Homo sapiens: one gene and its partners. The protein of the gene in region 4 purifies or fractionates together with the protein of the main gene of each other region. This does not show direct contact. Each region holds a gene or a part of one and is shown on either strand. Other genes may lie near its edges.

Region 1 (4,423 bases), on a different chromosome or scaffold from region 4:
TAAAATGTGCCACTTTACCCATTTTTCAGTATACATTTCAGGGATATTGAGTGTATTCGTAATGTATAACCATCACCACTATCCAGCTCCTTAACTCTTACAGCTTGTAAAACTAAAACCCTGTCCCCTTTGAATAGTAATTCCCTATTGCCCTCCTTCCCCCAGGTCCCTGGCAACCACCATTCTACTTCCTGTCTCTGAGCATATTTTAAGATTTGTATGTAATAGGAAGGAAAGCAGTGTATAAAAACTACAGCTAGTTTTCACTGATGCTAGGGCCTGTAAAGCTATTGAAAAGCTTATTTTAAAATGCTGTTTACATGTCAAATGTCAAGTCGTTTAGGTTTGTTATCCTTCTTCACTCCAAGTGTTCCATTGCTTAGTTCCAAACCATTATCCTCTATGAAAAGTGTTACCAGAAATATTTGGATTTGCTAAGAGGTCTCTGCATGACGGTTCATGTAAAAGCCCTGGCTTTGGAATAAGGCAGACCAGAGTTTCATCAGTTCAGCCATGTGTTAGTTGTGTGATCTGAAGTAAGTTTCTTCACCTCTCTGAGCCTCGTTTTCCCCACATATGAGTTAGAAACATGTATTTATTTATGAAATAGGCTCTCCTTCTGTCACCCAGGCTGGAGTGCAGTGGCAGGATCATAGCTCAGTGCAGCCTCGACTTCCCAGGCTCAAGCCATCCTCCCACCTCAGCCTCCCAAGTAGCTGGGATTACAGGGTGCGCCACCATGCCCAGCTAATTTTTGTATTTTTTTGTAGAGACAGAGTGTCTCTATGTTGCCCAGGCTAGTCTCAAACCCCTGGGCTCAAGGGATCTTCCTGCCTCAGCCTCCCAAGGCTCATTGTGTGAGCCACAGTACCCAGCCTTCAATTTATGTTTCTATTAGAAATTAAGCTTTGTGGCTGGGTGCAGTGGTTCATGCCTGTTATCCCAGCACTTTGGAAGGCCGAAGCAGGCGGATCACTTGTGGCCAGAAGTTTGAGACCACCCTGACCAACGTGGCAAAACCCCATGTCTACTAAAAATACAAAACGGGTGTGGCGGCACATACCTGTAATCCTAGCTACTTGGGAGGCTGAGGCAGGAGAATTGCTTGAACCAGGGAGGCGGAGGTTGCATTGAGCTGAGATCATGCCACTGCACTCCTCCAGCCTGGGCGACAGAGAGAGACTGTCTCCAAAAAAAAAAAAAGAAAAATTAAGCTTAGTGTTCTGGAAAGACTTCACAATTTTAAGGAGTCTCCCTGGAAGCTTAGAACGTACAAAGCAGACTCTGAATGTCTTTCCAGGATCACACTCTGGCTTCCAGCTTCCCCTGGAAGGTTCAGGAGAGTATTTGTCGCCTGGTTGCTTTTACATCATGCTGATTAGACCTGCACACCCGGGCATGAAATGAGTGTGATTGCATCATTTTCATAGAACCTAATGGCAGCTGTATGTACGTCTAAGACTTCTTTTGTGTAAGTCGAATGTTCTTCGAAGTTTCCCCACGTCATGATTTATGTGATTTTCCGTCTTGATCAGGACCTTCTGAAGGAGCTCAAGTATGTGGCTGCTCCACGGTTGATGAGTCTCTGGTTAAGCATGGCCTTCCAGTTCAGGGCTAGGGGGGCCGTCACCTCCCTTTGTTCTGCACATTCTTCTCCTGTCTTTCATGTATACTCACATTTTTGGAGCCTTCTGTGTACTCACATTTTTGGAGCCTTCTAAATGTCTGGCTTAATAGAACACAGCTGGATTCTCATACCTGCATCTGTCTCCACTCTTGGAATGTGTTGCTTTGGTTGACTTTTATGGAGCAGCTCAATCCTTGCACAGATAAATAGTTGGAAATGGGAGGAGTAATCAAATAATTCTGGATATTCATATTTGATTCTATACCAAAACTCAATAAGCAGTAGTTTCTATGAAGGTTAGTTGCAATGTGAAACCTAAAACCTTATCAATAAACTCTTCATACTTTTACATTAGAGTTCATCATTTGGCTGGGCGCGGTGGCTCACTCCTGTAACCCCAGGACTTTGGGAGGCCAAGGCGGGCGGATTACCTGAGGTCAGTAGTCTGAGACCAGCCTGGCTAACATGGCAAAGCCCCATCTCTACTAAAAACACAAAAACTAGCTGGGCATGGTGGTGGGCCCCTGTAGTCCCAGCTACTTGGGAGGCTGAAGCCATAGAATCACTTGAACCTGGGAGGTGGAGTTTGCAGTGAGCCCAGATTGCGCCACTGCACTCCCGCCTGGGCGACAGGGTGAGACTCTGTATCAAAAAAAAAAAAAAAAAGTCACTTTATCTTGTACTCCGACTGGATCCTTTACCAGTGCATACATTTGTAAGGTGTTGGTGATTTGGAAAGGACCTGTTCACTGAGCCAGGCAGAGCCATGCAGATGTTCCAGATGTTGGTACATTTTGTTATACAGTATCAAAGTCACATTCACCATAGCTGTTAGAAAAGTCTCTGAGTATTGAAAGACTGTCAGGCTTATGTTGATGGATACAGGTTTTCCGAAACTCTTTTTTGCTTGAAAGCTTAAATTTTACCATTGGCAACAAATACTGTTATTTTGGCCAGGTGCTGTGGCTCATGTCTGTAATCCCAACACTTTGGGAGGCCATGGCAGGAGGATCACTCTAGCCCAGTCTGGACAATATGTCCAGACCTGGTCTTTTCAAAAATAAAATTAGCTGGTGTGGTGGTATATGCCTATAGTCCCACCTACTTGGGAGGCTGAGGCTAGAGGATCACTTGAGTCCTGGAGATTGAGGCTGCAGTGAGCAGTGATTGCACCACAGCACTCAAATCTGGGCAACAGAGCAAGACCCTGTCTCAAAACAAAAAACCCAAATACTGTTCTTTTACTTCAAGGAACAGACTTAACTTCATTTTTAAAAAACTTAGTACCCATGTCTGAATTAACCATAGTTTGTTCTATAGAAAGAACAGCTAGTTCAGCTTGTAGCTCAAGTGCTTTTCCTGCAGCAGCCATCATGCTTGTGTATGCAGCAGAAGTGCTTTGCGTGTTTCATAACATAGGGTACTAAAAAGTGGGTCACGATTCATTTTTACTGCTTTACCAAGGATATTCCTAATTGAAGCTGTGATTTTTCTTCCTATTTTAAATACTTCAAGTGCATGGTGGGAAAGCATGAGTAATGTAGTTTGATGCCCCTGCCTTCGTTTGTATTAACACAAAGACCTGTTGTGAGATCAGTATAGGTCTTTGCTTTATAAATGTGGAATATTGTGAACCATTCTGGGAACCATATTTTAAGGCATCAGCACACTGGAGCCTATGAAGAAGAAGGTGATAGTGGGGATGGCCAGGCTCTGAAACTTCATCTTAGGAGGAAGGGCTGAGCAGCTTCAGTGAGGACCTTCGAAAGAAGCCTCAGCAGCAGTGATACAGCAGCTCTTAAGTCTCTGGGACTGCTGAGTGGAAGAAAGGTGTGGCCCTCCAGGCCAGAATAGGACCAAAGGATTACATCTTGGCCTTCTTCAGAGACTGCACAAATGTAAAGAACTGCTGCTTGAGCTAAATAATTGTTTTTTTAATAGAGACAGGGTCTCCCTTTGTTGCCTAAGCTGGTCTTGAACTAGCCTCAAGGGATACTCCTGCCTTGACCTCCTAAAGTGCTGGGATTGCAAGCATGAGCCACCACGCCCAGCCTCAACCATTTTTAAGTGTACAATTTAGTGGCATGGAGTACCTTCATAGTGTTGTGTAACCATTGCCACTATCTAGTTCCAGAACCTTTTCATAATCCAAACAGAAACTCTATACCCACTAAACAACTCCATTCCTTTCCCAGTTTTAACCTCATAAACATTTTGGCTATTTCTGTTACATCTATCTTCCCTACTTTTGGGTGGAGGTGTGGGCTAGGATAATTTAAGGCTAATCCTAGTCACCTATCCTTCTAAAATAGTTCTTATTTTTTTAAATTTTAATCCTCATCTTTGTGTTGGTAAATATTACATACTTTAGAGCAATTTTTGTTTCAATTTTTATGGCTACCGTAGTAGATGTATCTTATATATTCTTTCTTTGTTTTTTTTGTTTTTTGTTTTGTTTTGTTTTCTGAGGCAGAGTTTTACTCTTGTTGCCCAGGCTGGAATGCAGTGGCACTATCTCGGCTCACCACAACCTCCGCCTCCTGGGTTCAAGCGATTCTCCTGCCTCAGCCTCCCGAGTAGCTGGGATTACAGGCATGTGCCACCACACCTGGCAAATTTTGTATTTTTAGCAGAGATAGAGCAGAAACAGAGGGTTTCTACATGTTGGTCAGGCTGGTCTCGAACTCCCGACCTCAGGTAATCTGCCTGCCTCGGCCTCCCAAAGTGCTGGGATTACAGGTGTGAGCCACCGAGCCCGGCCTTTTTTTTTGAGATGGAGTCTCACTCTGCCTCCCA
Region 2 (3,363 bases), on a different chromosome or scaffold from region 4:
CATAGCGCTCCAAGCCGATGGCCCGCAGCCAGGCACTCATGCCTGCCTCGCCCAGCCCGCTGGCCCGCCCGCCCTGCAGGCACGGAGCCTAAGGAAACAGGGCATGTCAGGGGGAGCTGAGTGCCCCCCATAGAAACACCTGCAGTCACATTCTGCTGCATGCTCTGGGGAAAAGGAAGGGAAGGGCTGGGCTGATACATGTGTCTCCCAACTTCCCAGTGATCAGTTCAGGGTAGCAGGGACACCATGAGTGCTGAATGGTGGAGTGAAAGGGTACCAGTCTGTGGGCAAGCACACTCAGGCACACACAGACAGCCACCCTGCTCCACACACCTCCTCTGCCAGGTCTTCCTGGATGCTCTCCCGGATGCGGGGTGGAGGGAAGCTGAGGGGCCGGCCATAGTCCGAGGGCAGTCCCCGGGGGGGCTGCAGCTCCAGGGGGCCTGGGAGGAGCGCTGAGCGTGCAGGCCCAGCAGGGGCATAGTCCACCTCGCTCAGCGTCTTGGCCATCTGCAGCACCGAGCAGGACCGGTCATCCCCACTGGCCACTTCCCCCAGGAAAGTGCTGGCTGGTGAGGGGCCTGGGGGCAGTGGAGGCCTTGGATGGGCCTTGGGAGGTGGTGGGCCACGGGCCTCAGCCCCACCACGGCCCCGGACCACTGGCCCTGGTAAAGGATCCAGGCTGGGGGGCAGGAAGATGGCTGAGTCCGGCAGTGGTGGAGGTGGAAAGTCTGGAGGGGGCAGTGTGCCTCCAGACTCCTCATCTGAAGAACTCCCCTCTCCCACACGAGGGTGCCGGTGGTGCCCAAGCTGTGGAGCAGGCACTGTAATGGCCACTTTGTTCTTGGTGGCAGATGGGACAGGGGCCCTGGCAGGCGAGGGTGGCTCCGGGGGCAGCAGCTGGTGCGGGACCCCTTCAAGGACGTAGTAGGCAGGGTTATTGAAGCTGTTCTTGGGTGGGGGGGCCGCCACCCCTTCTGGTTCAGGAGCTCCCTCTGGCTTCAACCTGGGTGTGGAAGCAGAACGACTAAGCCAGGATCCAGGAACCCAGGTCTAAGGCAGTGGAAGCAGTGGAAGGAGAACTAGACGGGAGTCAGAAAGTCCCCTGGTCCTAGACTTTCTCATGACCTTGAGCACATCACCTGCCCTTAGTTTCTTCATCTCTAAAGGTCAGAGGGAGGATAACCCTTTGAATGGATAACCCTACAATCCCTTGCCTCACTTGCTAAGATACTTAGATCTTTCATGACTTTATCTGTAGCTGTGAAACCCAAGCTAAATGGGTCAGAATAGAGGTGCCAGAAGACAGGGCAAGAAGCCTCCAATGAGAGGCCAGGTTTGGAAAGCCTCTTGAGGCACCCACAGTCAATCCGCTGCAGAATCTTTCTCAGAGATTCAGGTGGGTCTTATTCAAGCCTAGGGATAAAACCGGGGTGACTGACAACAGCTGAAGATGAGTGAAAAAGCACCAAACTGTACCTAGGAGTTTATGTAAGTTTAAGCAACAATCGGATATAATTAGAAAGCAAGCCTCACTTTCCCAAAGTGTGACACAGAGCACTAATTCCCCAGAACGTTAATAGTTACTACATGGAAAATAAGTTTCCTGGCCCATTAAGTTTGGGAAACTATATTAAACAGAGCTGAAAAGAGGTTTCCTTCCTGTCCACATGCTCAGAGCTTTTGCTAATACTAACATGCACTGGGAATGTCTAAGAAAAGAATCTAGAAAAAGCATTTCCCAAACTCATTTGACCACAAACCCATTTCAACTGGGGCCTCTTGCAGGACAGAGTTCCAAAGAAGGTACCCTGGGAAATCCCAGGCCGAGCCATGTGCCTCCTCCAAATAGAAGGCTCAAGCTAGGTCTGTTTACATGGAGGGAGCTGTCTTAGAAACAATTTCGCATTCCATTTTTAAAGGCAGAATTGAGAGGAAAGGCTGACTGCTCCCTTTGACTCAGAGCCACAGCTAAGGGTGGCCTGGCTGGCCACAGGCATAAGGCCATGGCAGCTCCAACCACAGAGTGGCAGGGCACCTAAGCAGCTGATGATCTCCAGGCCAACCCTGAGACCCTGCAGGGGATAGTGATGGATAGAGGTGGGTGGGGGAAGGGGGGGCGGTGACAGGTTCCTCCTCTCACCTGGGGGTCAAGGGCTCCTCCCGGGGAGCTGCTCGGGGTGGGGCTGGGGGCCTCCCCGTTGGTGGCGGTTTCTCTGGTTCTTCAAATAACCTGGAGAGCGGGCAGGAGGCCTCTGTGAAGGCTGGCTTGCGGCTCCCTGACCTGCCAGGGATGCACAGGAGAGAGATGAAGTGGGGTTGACCAGATGCCCCCAGGTACCCTTTCATATGACATTCAACACAGCCCTAGCTCACCTGGGCTCCTGGCTCCCTCGGGACACAGAGGGGGCTTTGCTCTTTGCTCCTGCCTCATCCTTATCAATGCTGATCCACTCTGAGGGGGCAGGAAGGGAGACTCAGAGGAGACCTGGGCTCCTGGATCCCACAGACACCCAGTGGGCCTGCCAGCCCTTTCCCAGCTATGCCTTGGGGCAGGACTATTCCCAGCTGTGGCTGCAGAACCTCCAGGTATCCCAGAGATTCCAACATGCCCCCCGCACCCTGCCCTCCTTGATCTGTTCACACCACCCTATCTCATGTCCCAGTGGAGTCCCCACCGTAGAGCCGCTCACGGGTGCCCAGGCGCTCCGTGGGCACCCGCACCTTCATGGAGCCTCTGATATTGCCTGTCTCCTCGCCACGGTGGGATAGGAAGGTCAGGAACTGTTGGGCCGTGCTGCCGATCATGGATTTGAGTGCAACCACACACTCCCCTGAGGAGCAGATGGGACAAACCAGCAAATTACCAAGCTAATCTAGGGCCCTGTCTGGCTTCCTGTTCCCCTCAGCACCCCTCACCCCTCACCATAGGATTCATAGCCATCCATGGACTTGACTGTGAGCAGGAGGTGCTGGTCCTGCAGGTACTCGATATCAGCCAGAATTGGTTTGAGCTGGGAAGCAGGGAGGCCCAGTGAGGAACAAAGCCCCGCCACTTCCTCCTGCCCCTCCTACGCGCTGCCCCCTGACACCACTCAATCCCCACCCTCAGGTCATCTGTGCTCACTCACACTCAACTCTTCAGAGAAGAGCCAAATCCTTAATGCAGAAGACACAGCCCTATACAGGCCTTTTACAGCACCTAGCATCACTGTAACTAATTAATTTTCTCAATAGCTAACACAGGACCTGACATCTAGCAAAAGCTCAAGAAGCATCTCCTGAATGAATGAACAAACTGCAACAAGGTTCCACACTCCCAAAATAAAGCAAACGCCTTTATCCTCACTCATGCCCATGCCC
Region 3 (4,423 bases), on a different chromosome or scaffold from region 4:
AGGAAATAAAAATTCTGGAGTTGAAAAATATAGTAAAAATTCTCTAGAGGTGCTCAGATTTGATCAGGCAGAAGAAAATCACTAAATTTGAAGATAAGTTCACTGAGATTAGTCTAAGAAACAGAACAAAAAAAGAAGAATGAGGGAAAATGAACAGAGCCTTGAAGACCTGTGGGATACCATTAAATGCAACATCAGATACACAGTGGTAGTGTCAGAAGGAGAGCAGAGAGAAATGAGGCAGAAAGAAACATGGCCAAAACCTTCCCAAACTTGTTGAAAACTTCCCCAAAATATGAATTATTCTGCACCTCCAAGAAGCTCAACAAACTCCATGTAGGATAAACTCAGAGATCCACACATAGACACATCATAATCGAAACTGTCAAAAGCCACAAAATCTTGAAAGCAGTGACAGAAAAATGACTCAGTGTGTACAAAGGATCCTTATCAGAAACTAGTTGGCTTCTCAGTAGAAACCAGAGGCCAGAAAGTGGTGGGAGGACATATTCGAAATGATGAGACAAAGACTATAAACCAAGAATTCTACATCCAGCAAAACTAGCCTTAAGGAGAAATTAAGACATTCCCAGATAAACAAAAACTTAAAAGAGGGCTGGGCGAGGTAGCTCACACCTCTAATTCCAGAATTTCGGGAGGCTAAGGAGAGAGGATCACTTGAACCCAGGAGTTCGAGACTAGCCTGGGCAACATAAAGAGATCCCCTATCTGCACACACACAAACACACACACACACCCAAACAAAACAAAAAAACCCAAAAAACAAAGAATTAGCTGGGCACAGTGGCACATGCCTGTGGTCCCAACTACTCAGGAGGCTGAAGTGGGAGGATCGCTTGAACCTGGGGGGGTTGAGGCTGCAGTGAGCCATGATCACAACACTGCACTCTAGCCTGGATGACACAGCGAGACCCTGTCTCAAAAAAAAAAAAAAAAAAAAAAAAGAATTTGCACAAGTAGACCTGCCATGCAAGAAACACTAAAGACAGTTCTTCAGGCTGAAATGAAAAGATACTAGACAGTAACATGAACCCACATGAGGAAATAAAGGGTGCTGGTAAAAGTGATTGCATAGGCAAATAGAAAAAATAGTACAGAAGTCTTTTCCATTTCTAACTTTTTTCTCTAAAAGACAACTGCAAAAGCAGTAATTCTAAATGTGTTGATGGACATACAATGTACTGAGAGGTAATTGTATGACAGGAGCACAAGGGAGAGGAGAAGGAACGGAATTATAAAGGGGCAAAGTCTTTGTATAATATAATTAAAATGGCATTAGCCACACAAATTTTTTTTAAATTAAAAATAACTAAACAAACTGGCATTAATCCCTAATAGATGATTATACTAACATGTTAAGTTTATCCCCCAAAGACAACTACTAAGAAAATAACTTTAAGAAACTTCAAGGGATTAAAATGGGACACTGGAAAATACCTATTTCAAACAAAAAGACAATAATGGAGTAACAGAGGAATAAAAAAAGACATGACAGAAAACAAATAACAAAATTACCTTATCAGTAATTATGGTAAATGTAAATTGGTTGCATACTGCAATTCAACACAGGGAAATCCTTTATTTTAACCTAGACATACCTTGGTTATTTCATCAGATATGCTATATTCCAAGAATCTCAAAAGAGTTAGATAAATGCGGAATTTGTTCAGCACGGAAGGCAGCACCGCTGAGAGAAGGCTGTTCATGTACTCCTCCATGTTTGGTGGAATTAGCTGGGGCTGTAAGTGAATCTGGCAGTCTGCCTGAAAAGAGAAGGAGTACACTGTATTTTCTGAGTTCCTAAATTAATCTACATTTTTAAAGAAAGATGCATCATCTCTGTCAGCCCCTATGGGAATTAGAAAATACCACTTATTATTTAGGGGGAGGGAATAATGTTTTTTTTTCTGTGTGTGAGACAGGGTTTTGTCCTGTCACCCAGGCTGGAGTGCAGTGGTGTGATTGCAGCTCACTGCAACCTGCTTCCCAGGCTCAAGTGATCCTCCCACCTCAGCCTCCTCAGTAGTGGGACCACAGGTGCACGCCACCATGCCTGACTAATTTTGGATTTTTTGTAGAGACAAGTTTCGTCATGTTGTCCAGGCTGGCCTCAAAGTTCTGGGCTCACGCAATCCACCTGCCTTGGCCTCCCAAAGTGCTAGGATTACAGGCGTGAGCCACCGCAGCCAGTGAGCATCTATTTTTAATATTAATTTACATGCTTTATAACTACCTCAGAAATAATTATGAAAGCTTTTTCTTGGTTACTTATGTTTCCTCAATGGTATCAGTAAGCACACAAAAATGTAGCCAACCTCTAAAAAGCAGCTAATTAAAAAGGTCTATCAATACTTGCACACAGAAAACATATCCTTGAGCCATTTCATTCTTAGTCAAAGGCGGTTTCTCATCAATCGCAGGTGAATACTATTATTCAGAGACTACACACCATTTGACAACTGGGAGCATTTCCCATCATCCACAGAATTAAAAGCTCTCTTTACCAGCCACTCTGAAGACATACCAGAGCATTTCACCACAAAGCATGAAAATAACTACCAAGTGACCAAGGACATTTTAAAAGAACTCTGAAATATTTTTCACATAAGATTAGCAGAAAACAATGGGTCAAAGGTAGCAAGAACAGAAGTCTGGATGTTAAAATCAGGCAATCTCGCTATGCTCAGATGTGGGTGTTTCTGCTGCCAACAGCCTTGCTGGTCTCATGACTTGCTGATACCTGAGCTTGGTAGATGTAAGGTTTTCATCCATGGCAGTGCAAAATACTCAATTCCCTTAATGATCAGCAGTCACAGTTTTTTTTTTTTTTTTTTTTTTTTTTTTTTTTTTTTTACAACAAATGTAACTTATTAATAAGCGGTACCAAGAAACAGCAAAAATGTAGGTATTTTTCCAATGTCAACCTCCCTCCATTTAAAAATGACTCATCATACCGGGAGGAGTGACCTCCCCTCCGAAGTAATGAAAACGTTAATATTGCAGGGGAATTCCATCTGATGGTAGCTGAAGTCATAATCCACCTTCTGCCACGTTATGAGGTTGCTCAGGGCTGTCACATTATGAACACCTACAAAGGCAGGAAAACACTTTCAGTCATTTGACTTTAATCATCTAAACACATCAGTTTTGCTGACACCGATGATGAGCCATGAAGTTTCTACCACTTTTAATAAAGGGTATGAGGCGCTGTCCAGTTTACTAAGCTAAACGTCACTAAGTGTGTAGGCTTACAACAGTCTTGGTCAAGGTAGAACTTTCTGGGGGCAGGCGATACCCCCGCAAATCTAATACCTAGCATCTGGTATGCACCTAGACATAAAATAGTTCCCAAGTATGATTATTTCTAAGTGGTGTATTTACAGGGCTAAACCAAGGAAACACTAAAACTACCGTCATACATAGATCAGCCTAGTGAATTTTACAGATTTTATATTCCCCTTTGCCTTAAACATGCCCAGTCTACCTCATTTTTTCTTCTACCTTTACCTCTTGAGCTGATCGCCAGCAGTGTATTCTTAATTGTCTTCATTTGAGCACTGGTAAACAATCTGCTTTCTTGTGATTTTATAATATATTCCGCAACTGAGGTTAGTGCAAACCATTTGATCTATTATTTCTCAGACATTCTCTGAAAACCATTTACAAACTTTACAACGGGAGGTTAAAACATAATTAGCCAGGCGTGATGGCGGGTGCCTGTAGTCCCAGCTACTCGGGAGGCTGAGGCAGGAGAATGGTGTGAACCCGGGAGTTGGAGGTTGCAGTGAGCCAAGATTGGCCACTGCACTCCAGCCTGGGCGACAGAGCAAGACTCCGTCTCAAAACAAAAAAAAAATTATATTAGATCTTTTCTACACTTCCCTTTTGAGGTATTAGATGACTAAAGGCAAAGCTTCCTCCCATTTCAGCTTTTTAAAAAGCTATTTGGGGCAGGTGCAGTGGCTCACACCTGTAATCCCAGCACTGTGGGAGGCCAAGGCAGGAGGATCACTTGAGCCCAGGAATTCAAGATCAGCTGGGCAACATAGCGAGACCCTGTCTCTACCATTCCTTACACTCACTGAAAAAAAAATTTTAGGTTATATACAACTACGCAAAAGAACCCAACACTGTAGGCCCATAAAGACTGCTCCAACCATTCGCTGACACAATAAAACTTTTCACCAAAGAACCCTTACGACCCTCAACATCTAATACTACCCTTTATATTACTGCTCCATTATACTAATACTACCCTTTATATTATTGCTCCATTATATAATATATAAAATATATAATATATGATATATATTAAATGAGACATTATATATTATATATGATATATATTATATAAGATATATTATATAAGATATATATCTGTTCCATTGTACTACTTTCAGAA
Region 4 (4,235 bases):
TCAGCCATTTAAAGTATACAAGTTTTGAGGTGGGTGGATCACGAGGTCAGGAGATTGAGACCAACCTGGCTAACACGGTGAAACCCAGTCTCTACTAAAAATACAAAAACAAAATTAGCCGAGCGTGGTAGCGGGCGCCTGTAGTCCCAGCTACTTGGGAGGCTGACGCGGGAGAATGGTGTGAACCCAGGAGGTGGAGCTTGCAGTGAGCCGAGATCGCACCACTGCACTCCAGCCTGGGCGACAGAGCGAGACTCTGTCTCAAAAAAAAAAAAAAAGTATACAAGTTTTAGTAGCACTTGTGGGCTATTAAAAACAAAGTGTACAAGTCAATGGTGTTTAGTATATTCAGACTTGGGCAACCATTACCTCCATCAATCCCAATTTTCATCATGCCAAAAAGAAACTCCACAATCCCTCCATCACCCAAAGCAAGACCCCCATACTTAAGCAACTACTAATCTACATTGTCTCTATTGATTTGCCTATTCTAGACAGTTGATAGAAATGGAATGATACAGTGTGCGGCCTTTTGTGCCTGGTTTCTTTCATTCAGCAAGATCTTTAAGATGTTTCAGGTTCATCCACGCAGTAGCATGTATCAGAATTCCATTCCTTTTTATAGCTGAATAATATTCAACCTTATTGTGATATATTATTTTCATGCATTCTCTATAACTGCTTCTCAACATGCTAATCTATACTTATTTTTAAAATTTTAAAACAAATGCTTATTTAAGGTCATATATTTATTTTAAAGCAAATTGAAATATCTTACATTAAAATATAGGCTGGGCACAGTGGCTCACGCCTATAATCCCAGCAGATCTGCCAAGGTGGCCAGATCGCTTGACCCCAGGAGTTTGAGACCAGCCTGGGCAGCATGGCAAGACCCCATCTCTACAAAAACGCAAAAATTTGCAGGGTGTGGTGGCGCACGCCAGTGGTCCCAGCTACTTGGGAGGCTGAGGCAGGAGGATCACTTGAACCCAGGAGGTGAAGGCTGCATTGAGCCGAGATTGCACCACTGCTCTCCAGCCTGGGTGATGGAGTCAGACCCGTCTCAAAAAACAAACTACAACTTTCACACACACCAAAACCTAACATGACATTACTAACAGTGGTTAGCAGACTCTGCTGAGAGGTGAATCTGGAAGTATTCCTTTCAGCTGATCAGTAGATAACGGAACAGAGGGAGCACGGACCTAGTCAGGAAGGAGGCCCCATGCCTCCACCCCGTGGGAGAGGGCGTCACCCCAAGCCCAGCCCCACCCACGCATCAACCAGTCTCCACCACATCCTTACCTACATCCATCCACTCTGGAGGGAGCAGGCGACATTTCTGTCTTTGTTTCAGGTTAATCGCCAGCCACAGGGGCACTTCCACGGGTAAACCAGGGTTAAAAGGCCCCAGGTCCCCCTGCCAAAAGTAAAACAATTCCCCGTAAGATTGAAAAAGAACAAAAAAAGCATTACTGTGCGTTACTGCTATCAAATAAGAGGCAAGGCATTGCAGAGGCTGAAGTCCAAATGCAAATAATAAAAACCCAACTGTTACCAGACTCAGAACAAAGCGCCTCCTGAGCGGCTCCGAGACACCTGCGAGCGTGGGGCTCAGTCCTTCTGGCCTTTCCGCGGACAGGATGCAAGTCTCCCCTGAGTGGGTGGGGGGCGCTCCCTCTCCCGCCTGCACCCTCCAACTCCGGAACAGGTTTCACACACCCAATGTTGGGGTCCTGGGGTGCGGGGAGGTGGGTCTGGGCAGGTACAGAGCCTGCCCTCCTTCTCCAGGACTCCCAGCGCCGAGGCGCCTCCCTCATACTGAAAACGCAAAGCCGGGCGGGCGCGGGGGCTCACAATCCAGCTACTCGGGAGGCTGAGGCAGGAGAATCACCTGAACCCGGGAGGCGGAGGCCGCAGTGAGCCGAGATCGCGCCACTGCATTCCCGCCCGGGCGATAGAGCGAAACTCCATCTCAAAGATAAAGACAAAAACAAACAGAGGCAAAGCCGACTTTTGCCCATAATCCCAGCCCTTTGGGAGGCCGACGTGGGAGGATCGCCTGGGGAGCCCAGGAGTTCGAGGCCAGCCGCATCTCTACCAAATAAATAAGCCGGGCGCAGTGGCTCCCGCCTGTCATCCCAGCACTTTGGGAGGCCGAGGCGAGTGGCTCATGAGGTCAGGAGTTCGAGACCAGCCTGGCCAACACGGTGAAACCACATCTCTACCAAAAATACAAAAATGCGCCGGGCGTGGTGGCGGGCACCTGTAACAGCAGCTACTCAGGAGGCTGAGGCAGGAGAATCGCTTGAACCCGGGAGGCGGAGGCTGCAGTGAGCCGAGACGGCACCACTGCACTCCAGCCTGGGCGACAGAGTGACACTCCACCTCAAAAACCAAAAAACAAACCAAAAAAGCCCCCAAACAGATCAAAAAAACCCTGTAAACCCGGGCGTTCGGGGCACTGGCAAAGAGCGCAGTCTCGCTTTCCTCATCCGAGAAGCGGGAACGGCGGTGAGCGAGTCAAGCGCCGAGTGGTGGCCTCCGCAGATGCGGGAGCAGGGCGAGCCCGCGACCCCGGGGCTGAAGGCCACGCGGGAGCCCCGGACGCGCCCAGCCCGGCCTCCCCTCCCCACGGCGGGCCCAGGCCTCACCCCGATGAGGTAGATCTTGTCCAGACTGAAGTTGGGGATAATGGTAACCAGCTCCTTCTCGGCGAGGAATTCGACCTCGGCAGCGTCCATGGCGGCGCGAGCTGCAGGCCAGAGCCTCACGGTCTCCTCGGGCCCCTCAGCGTCCCGGAGGAGACGCCGCGGCCGCCGTTTTCCCGCCACGGCGAGAGCCCGCCCCGGCCGGAAGACGGCCTGCGCCAGCCTATAGGAAGGCGGTAGACAGCCTATAGGCGCTGTCTGCGGGCGGGGGGGCGGAGACCGCGCTCGCGAAGAGCCCGCGGATTGGCAAGGCCGAGGGAGGCTGCGCGCCGGCCCCGCCCCGGCCCGCGGACAGGCCCCGCCCCCACCCCGGCCCCGCCCCGCCCGTGGGCGTGCACCTGGCGCTGTCAGGATCTCCTGCCGCGGGCGCCAGCTTTGGTGTCCCTTCACCTGTCCCCGGCGCCCGCCGCAAACGGCCCTAATCAAGAGCCGGGGGTGGGGTTCCGGGCCGCTTCTACGCCGGCGTTCCGCATGGGGCCAAGAGTAAACGCATTTATTTTATTTTAATTTTTAAACAACTTTTCGTGGATTTGGGATCTTGCTGTGTTGCTCAGGCTGGTCTTGAACTTCCGGTCTCCAGCGATCCTCCCATCTCGACTTCCCAAAGTGCTGGGATTACAGGTGGGAGCCATCGTGCCAGGCCAAGAGTACAAGCATTTATTGGCCCAAACTCAGCACCGGGCCCGGGACTAGGCATCACCCGGGCTGACAGATAGAGGGATGAGGGAAGACCTTGTTTCCATTAATTTCACAATCTTCTGCCCTCTCTGCACACATTGTTTAAAACAGCTGTAAAAATGCAGATTCCTCCATCCCACCCCACAGCTTCCAATTCGGACACTTCAGAGCAGGAGCTCAGAATTTGCACTTCGGCAGGAGCCCCACATGAGACAGGAGCGGCAGGTTTGCACCACCTGAGCAAATACTCACCTGCTCGCTGGACCGGCTGCCCCTGTACAGTGGGCGCAGGTGAAGCCAGAGCGGTGGCTGGAGCTCACCTGTGTCAGAATCCCCTAGCGGGTGCCCATTGTCTGTGTGCACGCTCCTGGGAGTTGGGATTCCGGAGTCGTGGAAAGGACAGAAAGCTGAATTTCATCCAGGGCCAGGTGATTTTGATGGGGTGGTCATGGCCGGAAAAGCTTCCTGGGGGTGAAGCGCTATTCTAGGACTGCAGTCGAATTTGAAACCTTGATAATTAGGCCCGCGAGAAAAATCACAGGAGACATGAGGATTCCAGGGTTTGGAATTCCAGCAGAAAGCACCCCCTGCCCCCGCCCCAGCTAACCGGATGCTCTCCTCTCCAACCTCCCTGAAGCCCCATAGAGGGTCACTGGGAAGGTGAAAAAAAGCCGTAAAGCTCACAGGCCTGCTCACAAAGCTGTGTCTGTTGTGTATCTGCCTTAGAAGTTGTTATTTACAGATCTGGAGTTTTCGCTGAGTTACTTTCATGTGTGAAGACACATACTCTTGGCCAGGCACGCCTGTAATCCCAGCACTTTGGGAGGCCGAGGCAGAAGGATCACT

Evidence for each region.
Region 1: the proteins of GINS2 (region 4) and EIF4H fractionate together in Homo sapiens (co-fractionation; one large-scale study listed by BioGRID). This does not show direct contact.
Region 2: the proteins of GINS2 (region 4) and INPPL1 purify together in Homo sapiens (affinity purification with mass spectrometry; one large-scale study listed by BioGRID and IntAct). This does not show direct contact.
Region 3: the proteins of GINS2 (region 4) and MCMBP purify together in Homo sapiens (co-immunoprecipitation; 2 studies listed by IntAct). This does not show direct contact.

Annotation. Positions count from the first base shown.
Region 1 is NC_000007.14:74,177,356-74,181,778, forward strand, and holds part of EIF4H (eukaryotic translation initiation factor 4H), read left to right. Parts: intron 1-4,423. UniProt on the Homo sapiens protein: Stimulates the RNA helicase activity of EIF4A in the translation initiation complex. Binds weakly mRNA.
Region 2 is NC_000011.10:72,234,767-72,238,129, reverse strand, and holds part of INPPL1 (phosphatidylinositol 3,4,5-trisphosphate 5-phosphatase 2), read right to left. Parts: intron 3,015-3,363; coding exon 2,927-3,014; intron 2,835-2,926; coding exon 2,679-2,834; intron 2,456-2,678; coding exon 2,377-2,455; intron 2,285-2,376; coding exon 2,144-2,284; intron 1,007-2,143; coding exon 334-1,006; intron 89-333; coding exon 1-88. UniProt on the Homo sapiens protein: Phosphatidylinositol (PtdIns) phosphatase that specifically hydrolyzes the 5-phosphate of phosphatidylinositol-3,4,5-trisphosphate (PtdIns(3,4,5)P3) to produce PtdIns(3,4)P2, thereby negatively regulating the PI3K (phosphoinositide 3-kinase) pathways.
Region 3 is NC_000010.11:119,833,921-119,838,343, forward strand, and holds part of MCMBP (mini-chromosome maintenance complex-binding protein), read right to left. Parts: intron 3,110-4,423; coding exon 2,976-3,109; intron 1,785-2,975; coding exon 1,620-1,784; intron 1-1,619. UniProt on the Homo sapiens protein: Associated component of the MCM complex that acts as a regulator of DNA replication.
Region 4 is NC_000016.10:85,686,155-85,690,389, forward strand, and holds the start of GINS2 (DNA replication complex GINS protein PSF2), read right to left. Parts: upstream 2,801-4,235; 5' UTR 2,745-2,800; coding exon 2,655-2,744; intron 1,421-2,654; coding exon 1,306-1,420; intron 1-1,305. UniProt on the Homo sapiens protein: Required for correct functioning of the GINS complex, a complex that plays an essential role in the initiation of DNA replication, and progression of DNA replication forks.